Linked DNA regions of Homo sapiens: all the other regions are linked to region 2. The links come from fine-mapping of genetic effects on gene expression. A gene starts in region 2. Each other region holds a variant in brackets. All regions are shown on one strand. Distances are from middle to middle. Region 1 overlaps CDCP1 (CUB domain containing protein 1). Region 2 holds the start of CDCP1 (CUB domain containing protein 1). Region 3 overlaps CDCP1 (CUB domain containing protein 1).

Region 1 (2,680 bases), 32 kb before region 2:
GAAGGAAGGCATTTGTAGCAGAGTCTGTGCTTTGGGATCTCCTACTTCTCCTGTACTAAGAGAGTCACGATTTCACAATTTGTAGAGCACAGTGCCAAGATCCATCCTTTAAAACTGGTTTCCCCATCAACACATTCATCAACATAGCAAATATACTCTGAACGTGCAACTCCCCTGGACAGCTGGAATCTGGCGGCGCCATTTCTCTTCTTGCACTGCCTTAATGCTGATATTTTATAACCACTGCAGTTGAATTTCTTTTTTTAAGGCTAACAGCTAATAACATCCTTTGATATATTTGTTTCCTAAGCCTTTTAAAACAAAGCAAGAAATATTATCAAAGAGAAAACAAGAGGAAAGTGAGGGGACGAAACAGAAAGTAGGCAATGTAACATTAAGGTTTTGTTGTTTTGAGCAGGGGGCATCTGAAAGGTGTGATAGACTCTGGCCTCCATAATAATAATTTGTGAATCTTTACTGCTGTTCTATTGGGGTATTTGAAAGTATTGTCCACTCAAAATAGAATTATGGAGAATTTCAGATCAGTCTTGGATCTCTGAGGTCATCCAAGCCAGACCTCTAATTTTTGCAAAGCAGCTGTGGATCCAGGTGACTTGGGCTGGCACTTGCAGCAAGTACACGGCAATTCCAGATCCCAGGACGAAAGCTCAGGCTGTGTTTGGTCAGCCCTTTCTTGCCAATGCGCTATGCTGTCTAACCAATAACACAGGGTTAGATAACATGGTGACTAACGTGACTAAAATTAGACTTTGCGTGTTAGTAAAGGTAGTTCCTATTTTAGGAGCTCATGGAAACTTCAATGTTTATATCAAGCCACCTCTTTCTTTCAAAAGCAGACCTCAAGTGATTTTCCACGCACACCTCCAGTGTGCCCAGGGCAACATCAGTTGGCTCTGGCTAGGTTCTGTACTCTTGTGGAAACATTTAACTCTAGTAAGGCAGTGACTCTTAGCTCTGGTTCTACCTACAACTCACCTGCAGGCCGTTTAAAAACTACACATGCCTGGACCATCCCAGGGATTCTGATTTAATTCTATAGTAAAATCTGGAGTCAAAAAGCCCCATCTCCCAGCCTCAGCTCTGTCAGCAGCCATGTGACACTGTGAGAGTCAGGTTATGAAAGCAATTTTTCATTTGATGCTAAGAGCTTTGTTTTTTAGGATGAACACACAGGTAAGAGTAGTCAAAATGATTGGCATGCCTCGGAATCTTCTCCTGTACTCTGTCCAGTGAAAACATTTTAAATAACTAAAATGATTCCTGTCCAGAGGATGGAGAAGTATTATTTCTGAAGTGATTCATAAACTCATTTTCCCCAGCAGATTTCTAATTTCATTAACTCTCTTTTTTTTTTTTTTCTTTTTGGAGATGCAGTCTTGCTCTGTCACCCAAGCTGGAATGCAGTGGCACCATCTTGGCTCACTGCAACCTGTCTCCCAGGTTCAGGTGATCCTTCTGCCTCAGCCTCCCAAGTAGCTGGGACTATAGGTGTGTGCTGCCATGCCTGGGTAATTT[C/T]TTTTGTATTTTTAGTAGGGGTTTCACTATGTTGACCAGGCTGGTCTTGAACTCCTGACCTCAGGTGATCCATCTGCCTCAGCCTCCCAGAGTGCTGGGATTACAGGCATGAGCCACCATGCTCAGCCAACTTTCATTAGTTCTCATGGAACTATTCAAGAAGAGATGAGAATGGAGACATCAAATTTTATCTGATGCTGATTTCAGAATGATTGTTCAGAAAAGGCAATGAAGGGCAGGTGGACCACTGGACCTGATTCAGTGTCTAGATTTATTATTTTAGAAATTGATATTTTCATATCATTTTCAAAAGTTGTGAGCATGGGTTTTTACTACATAGTAAGCCATGTGGGCATCCTAGGATTGAGAGACTGAATGCATTCAAAGGCTTGACTTGTGAAATGTGTCACTTGTTACATTTTTCCTTTTTCAAAGTGGAAGTCACTTTATTGGTTTAACTGATTATAAAAGTAATGTACAGTCGTTTTAAAAACAAACAAAAAGACAAGTGGGTGTGGTGGTGTGTGCCCAGCTACCCCAGAGGCTGAGGTGGGAGGATCACCTGAGCCCAGGAGGTTTGAGGCTACAGTGAGCTGTGGTCACCACTGCACTCCAGCCTGGGTGACAGAAAAAAAAAAGGTGGGGGTGGGGTGGGGTGGGGCGGGGAAGTACAGAAAAGTAGAAAGAAGAAAATGTCACCTGTTCCCCTCTGCCATCCCCTATAGAGTAGTATAAAGTTAGAATTTTGGAGTTTTGGAGTTTATCCCTCCAGACTTTGGGTTCTGTATGATTGTGTGTGCATGTTTGTGTGCATGTATGTAAGTGTGCATGTGCACATGTGTGTATTTAATAGAGTAGCATCAAACTATATAAACTATTGTCCTACTATAAGCTGCATTGTTTTTAATGGAACAAAACTATTTTGGGCATCTTTCTATGTCAAATACACAAACTTACTTCATTCTCTTAGTAGCAACACACCATTCCACTGCGTTCTTAAATATATCAACGTTCTCTTTAACTCTGTAAAAGCTTCATTAAAATTTTAATTATAATTGACTTAAATTGATAAATTAATATAGGGGAGAATTTACACTTTAAAAATACTTAGTATTTCTTTTTTTTTTAAATTTTTTTAAGACAA
Region 2 (2,680 bases):
CCAGCACTTTGGGAGGCCCAGGTGGGAGGATCACTTGAGCTCAGGAGCTCGAGACCAGCCTGGGCAACACAGTGAAACCCTGTCTCTACTTTAATATATATAATTTATATATATATTTATAAATCCATGCCATGGTTTAAATGAAGTTTTAAATTTTCTATCTACTATGCAGCAATATGTCACCTGATGTTGGAGAATGAACCAGGAAGTATTCCTGGAGCTTATATTGATATTTTAGAAGCTCCTGTCTTGTATTTGTAAAGACGGCAGTCACCGGGACGCCCAAATTCAACCTCACTTGCGTCCTTTTATTCCTTTATCTAATTTACACCTGCCAAACACAAATCCACCCTAGATGCAGCAAGGGGAATCAAACCCACATGGCTTCCTGGAGAGCTCTATTTAAAAAACACAAAACCTGTACTAATCTCGCGAAACCTGTACTAGCCTCACATCAAGTTCTTACATGAAGAAACCAGGTTATTTACTACGTTCTAATACATCCAGGGCCCACAGGGCATTTCCTGGCTGGCACAGGTCACTGGGACGTGTTGGTCCCTTCCCCCAACCGAAACAACTCGAAATTCACACATATCCCCGGAACAACAGCCTCCTGCCCTCAAAGTCCACTGCCAAAAAGTGCGAGGGGCGCGGGAATGTCCAGTCTCTGCGGTGGCGCAGATGCCTGGCGGCTTTCTCTGGGACCCCCTAAAAGAAATCCGGGCGCTTTCATTTTTGCACCAACGCTCTTCAACTTTAGGAGAGGGGGAATGCAGCGTGCGGACGGGAAAAAGGGGATCTAGTGGGAAATGCGGACGTGAAAGCACTTTTTTTGCACCTTCTCTCTGGACCAGGCGAGGAGGTAGAGGGCGAGCCTGGAGAGGAAAGATCTCTTCCCACACCCTGCCTGGGTGCTTTCAAGAATCCCGGCAAAGACCCTGGGGCGCACGGCGCGCCACCTTGGACATGTCGCCTGGGATCGGCTACCGGGAGCTCCTTTTCCCGCCTTCTCGGCCAGCACCGGGCTCATCCTCCCGGACCGGGAGGCTCCCCGATCGGGGACACTCTCACGTGCCGAGGGCAAGGTTGACTCCAGGAGGGCAAGGCCCACGCGCCCGACGCGGCGCGCGCAGGAACCGAACAGTCCGGGGGTCCCGGAGCCACCCGCGCATTTTGACTACGCCGTCCCCGCCCTCTCTCCGCACCCTCCGCACCCTCCGCACCCTGCGTCCCTCGGCCGCATCTCCGCCGGGCGTCCGCTGGCTGGCTAGCTCACCACTCCACGCCATCCGCCTCCAAAGCCCGGCACTCACCTGCCCCGCGCGGCAGGCGCGCCGCACCCAGCAGCAGAACCCCTAGCAGTGCGATAGAGACCCCGCAGTTCAGGCCGGCCATGACTCCGGGACGCCTCGGCCTCGGTGGGGAAAACGACGGTGGGGAGCGGCGGCCCCAGGCGCCCAAGCCCGGCGCAGCTGCGCTCCGCCCTGGCTCACTCACCTGCGCGCGGGCGGACCGGCCCGAGCCCCGCCCTGCGCAGCAGGATCGCGAGCTGACCCGGTGCGTCCCTCCTCTCTCTCCTCCTCCTCTTCCTGCCTCAGCGACCGCCTCTCCCTCCCAGGGTGCAGGGCTCCCGGCACCGGGTTGCTGGGTCCCTACTACTCCCCATTGCGGCGTTGGAGCGGACTTGTCCCCACCTTTCCGGGCTTAGTCTTCCTTCCCAAGTCTGAGAATGATGAGGTCTTTTTCTCCAGAGTCGCGAAGGTCGCCCATAGAGGAAGCCAGTCTACCTTCCCTTTTCTGTCGAGGAGACAAAGGCCATTATGCGCCTCGTTTTGGAGAAGAATCCTATTTGTGGGCCACCCAAGCCCTGGATCCTCTGCTACTTGACTTGGGCCAGAGGTCTGTTGGACTTTAAAGCCGGTGGTGGTACAGCTAGTATTTGCAGGACGGTGAGCCTGCAGCCTACTCCACACACATCACCTGCAGTATTTCCAGACACGCAACGTGTCCAAGGTCCCCAGGGTAGCTAGTAAATTAGAGGCAGATGCACCACTTCGTTGAATTGTGAGTAGAGTAGTATGCATCCCTTCACTGAGCTGTGGATGGAGTAGTATGTGCCCTTCTCGAGTTGTATTATAAATGGAGTAGTGTGTGCAGTGTGAGCGTGAAGCATTCAGGTCAAACGTTGGGCTGGAAAATGAATGAAAAATGAATGGCGCTGGACTCCTTTTCCAAATCCTCCCAGCCGCAGGTGTGCCACCTGCCTGTCTTCAGAGGCCCTGTGGGTTCTCCTTCCACCCTGCCGGCCATACACCAAGTCCAGGCCACAGGCAGAGATTGCGGATGGTTCAGGAGTTCTTAGCTAGCAGACCTGGGTTCTGCCAGAATGACTCCCTGGGACTACTTGTGTTCATGGATAGCCAGAAGCTGGGCCAGAGTCACCCGGAGCAACCTGGGAGGCTTGGGACAGGAACCAAAGCATGTGCGACAGCATCAGTTTACAGTCCAGTCCCAACTTCTGCTTAATTCTTGCGGGCACTGAGCCTCTCCAGGCTGCCCCAATCCTCCTTGTGGACAGGGGTGGGAAATCATCTCCTAGGAGCGTCACCCCTTCCTTCTCGATGTCCTTAATCATGAGAATAGAGCTAGCTCTGCCCTCTGGGAGCCCACAGTCCATCGA
Region 3 (2,680 bases), 26 kb before region 2:
AGGAAGGAAAATGAAGTAAGCAGGATGATTTAGGTCTGCAAACTGCTGTGGTCCCCGACCCCAATCTGGTTCAGAGAGGATGTCCTCTATGACAACTTTGTTCCTTCCCTCCTTTTCTGAGAAGAAGGGTGGTGCAAAATGACAGTTCCGACCTTAGCAATGAAAAAGAACCAGGATGCTGCCAGCTGGTCACTGACATGTGTTTCTTGTTTGGATTATTAATTTTTCTACAAATTGAAAACACTATACCACATTCTAGATGTCTTGAGCAGTATGCTGTTAGATATCCCATCTGAGCAGTATTAAATAACAACCAGAGTAACCACCACACCTTTTCTCAACATGACAGTAGAACAAAGTCTACACACAGAAACCATCCATCATAGGGAGACACATTTATCTGCAAAGAGCTGCTGTCCCTTGCCCTGGGTGCTTTATATGCCCAGCACATACACACATACACACGTACGTACATACATACATATGTATGTACGTATGGTAGTGGGGGCTAGAAAAACATTTGCAGAAATTAGATATAATCATATTATATCAATGAATTTGGAAAGTTAGAGCAAAACAATGCTATTATCTCAGATTGGGGTTTAGAAAAAACACCTGAGCAAACAGTATCAAGCAAGTGAGGTGGGGGTTGGTTATTAAACAGAATTGTACAAATGTCAGAGTAGGGCTCTGGTTCACAAACAAGCCCAATCTCCTTCCCATTTGCTTTGCTTGATTGATTAAGTGCTCTTAGACCAAGAAGGGAGAGCCACTTTCTCCTTAGCTGACACTGCCCCTGCCCTATCTTGGATTCTGATTATGAGTCTCCGGGCAGCTGATGGCCTGGGAACAGCAGATGATGGGAAGATCGTCTGTAGGTAAATCCTGTGGAGGGAGCCTAGGGGCTCACAGTTCATGTAGCACCATGTTCTGGTACAAACAGCTGGTCGGGATCTGTTATCGTGCTGGCACACAAATGGTGCTTGATAAACAGTTAGTGAATGAATAGCAATCTAATCAGAAGCTTTTGTTTCCCATCTATTCTTTTTTCCCTCCTTGTAAAAATTTATTTTTAAAAAATCAACCTTATTGACAGTAATTTACACACATTAAAAAGGACTCACTCATTTTGAGAGTTTTGACAAATGTATACACTCATGTGACCACCACAATCAGGATATACAAATATTTTCCTCACCCTCAAAAGTTCCCTCAGTGCCCCTCTGCAGTCAACCTCCACTCCAAGTCCTAGAAAACTGTCAATGAGTTTGTCCTGCTCTGGACCTTCATGCAAATGGAAGCCTATAGTACTTTCTCTTTTGTAGCTGGCTGCTTCTGCTCAGCATGCTTGTGAGATTCACCCACGCTGCTGCATGGGTCAGTAGTTTCCTCCTTTTTATTGCTGAGTACTATTCCATTGACAGAATAGGCCATGATTTATTTATCCATGCACCTGCTGAATGACATCTGAGTCCTCTTCAGTGTTGGACGAGCCATGTGCTATAATTTTACCATAACTGCTAGCCTGCACAAGACTGGATGTACTTCTGCCAGCTGCCATGAGTGAGCATGCTGTATTCCCACAGCTCAGCAGCTGTATGTGATCACACATTTGGATTTCTGTCACCCTTTTCTTGT[GC/G]CTCTCTCTCCATTCTACACTCTGCTCCAACCCCACTGGCCAGCTGCTCCTTACATAGTATGGAAATTGATCTCCCAACCTTATATGAACTGTAAATATTTTCCCCAGTTTATCGTTTGCCTTTTGACCTCACTTAGAATGGTTTTTCAGGTATGAACTTTACCCTCTTTGGGCCTCTGTTCCTTCATTGTAAAATGAAGGGGTGGGGCTAGAATAACTCTACACTCCCTGCCAGCTCTGAGTCTATGACTATTACCTGAGTAAGTAGGAAGCGACTTTGTAACTGGAAGAATTCCCAACTACTGCTCAGAAATGACATATCTCTCTGGGCACCAGGGCACTGCCATGGCCAGTTTTATGACTGCAAGAGTGCTTAGATTTCCATTTTTGGGGCAAAACTTCTTGTCTTTCTGGCTTCTGCGTGTAACCCTCTCCACCTTAGTCACTGTGTTCAGGCCAGTCTTGCCTTCTTTCTTGAACACACCAACCTCTTTCCCACCTCAGGGCCTTTGCACATGCTGGTCCTGACACCAAAAGTGCTTTCTCTAGAAAAAGCTGGCTCCTTGTTGTCATTCCGGTCTCAGCACAAAGGTCACATTTTCAGAGTGGCCTTCCCTGACCAGCCCACCTAAAGTGCTCCCCTCCCCCCACCACTTCAGTCCTCCTGAACCCTGCGCTTGATGTCCGTGAGCTCCTACAGGAGGCAGCAGGAACTTGCCCGTATTTTTTAGTGGTAGCCCCACGACCAAGGCAGTGCCTGATCCCCACGAGGAGACAAAACGTTTTAAGCCCCAAAACAACTCCATATAAAACTATTAGTCCCTGTGTGCTTGTCTTCACCGCATTTAATTTCTCATAGACATACTACCATTCCCATATTTTACTTTCGGCTAATAAATCCTGGCAAGAACAAGGGACTATGCATCTTTTAATTAATAGCTTGAGAGAGAATATATTCTCAGGGGCAGAAGTTTTATTTGCTCAAATGCTTGGTCTTCAAGCAGTGTGGCCATTTAGAATCTTCTGAGGCTGAGGAGTTCC

Evidence for each region. PIP is the estimated chance that this variant, and not a neighbour inherited with it, causes the effect. A credible set is the group of variants that fine-mapping cannot tell apart.
Region 1: its variant is the best candidate, but not a certain one, in a credible set for the expression of CDCP1 in esophagus mucosa (GTEx, PIP 0.83).
Region 3: its variant is the best candidate, but not a certain one, in a credible set for the expression of CDCP1 in esophagus muscle (GTEx, PIP 0.56).

What each region holds. Positions count from the first base shown.
Region 1 is chr3:45,113,049-45,115,728 of GRCh38, forward strand. All of the region lies in intron 2 of CDCP1 (CUB domain containing protein 1), which reads right to left. Among named protein-coding and RNA genes, the nearest start is that of CDCP1, 32 kb to the right of the region's middle. The variant C/T (reference allele first, on the strand shown) is at 1,537.
Region 2 is chr3:45,144,893-45,147,572 of GRCh38, forward strand. CDCP1 (CUB domain containing protein 1) reads right to left here and starts at 1,486. Exons shown (of 9, transcript NM_022842.5): 1 at 1,314-1,486. The coding sequence starts at 1,395.
Region 3 is chr3:45,118,630-45,121,309 of GRCh38, forward strand. The region is part of intron 1 of CDCP1 (CUB domain containing protein 1); the gene reads right to left. Among named protein-coding and RNA genes, the nearest start is that of CDCP1, 26 kb to the right of the region's middle. The variant GC/G (reference allele first, on the strand shown) is at 1,639.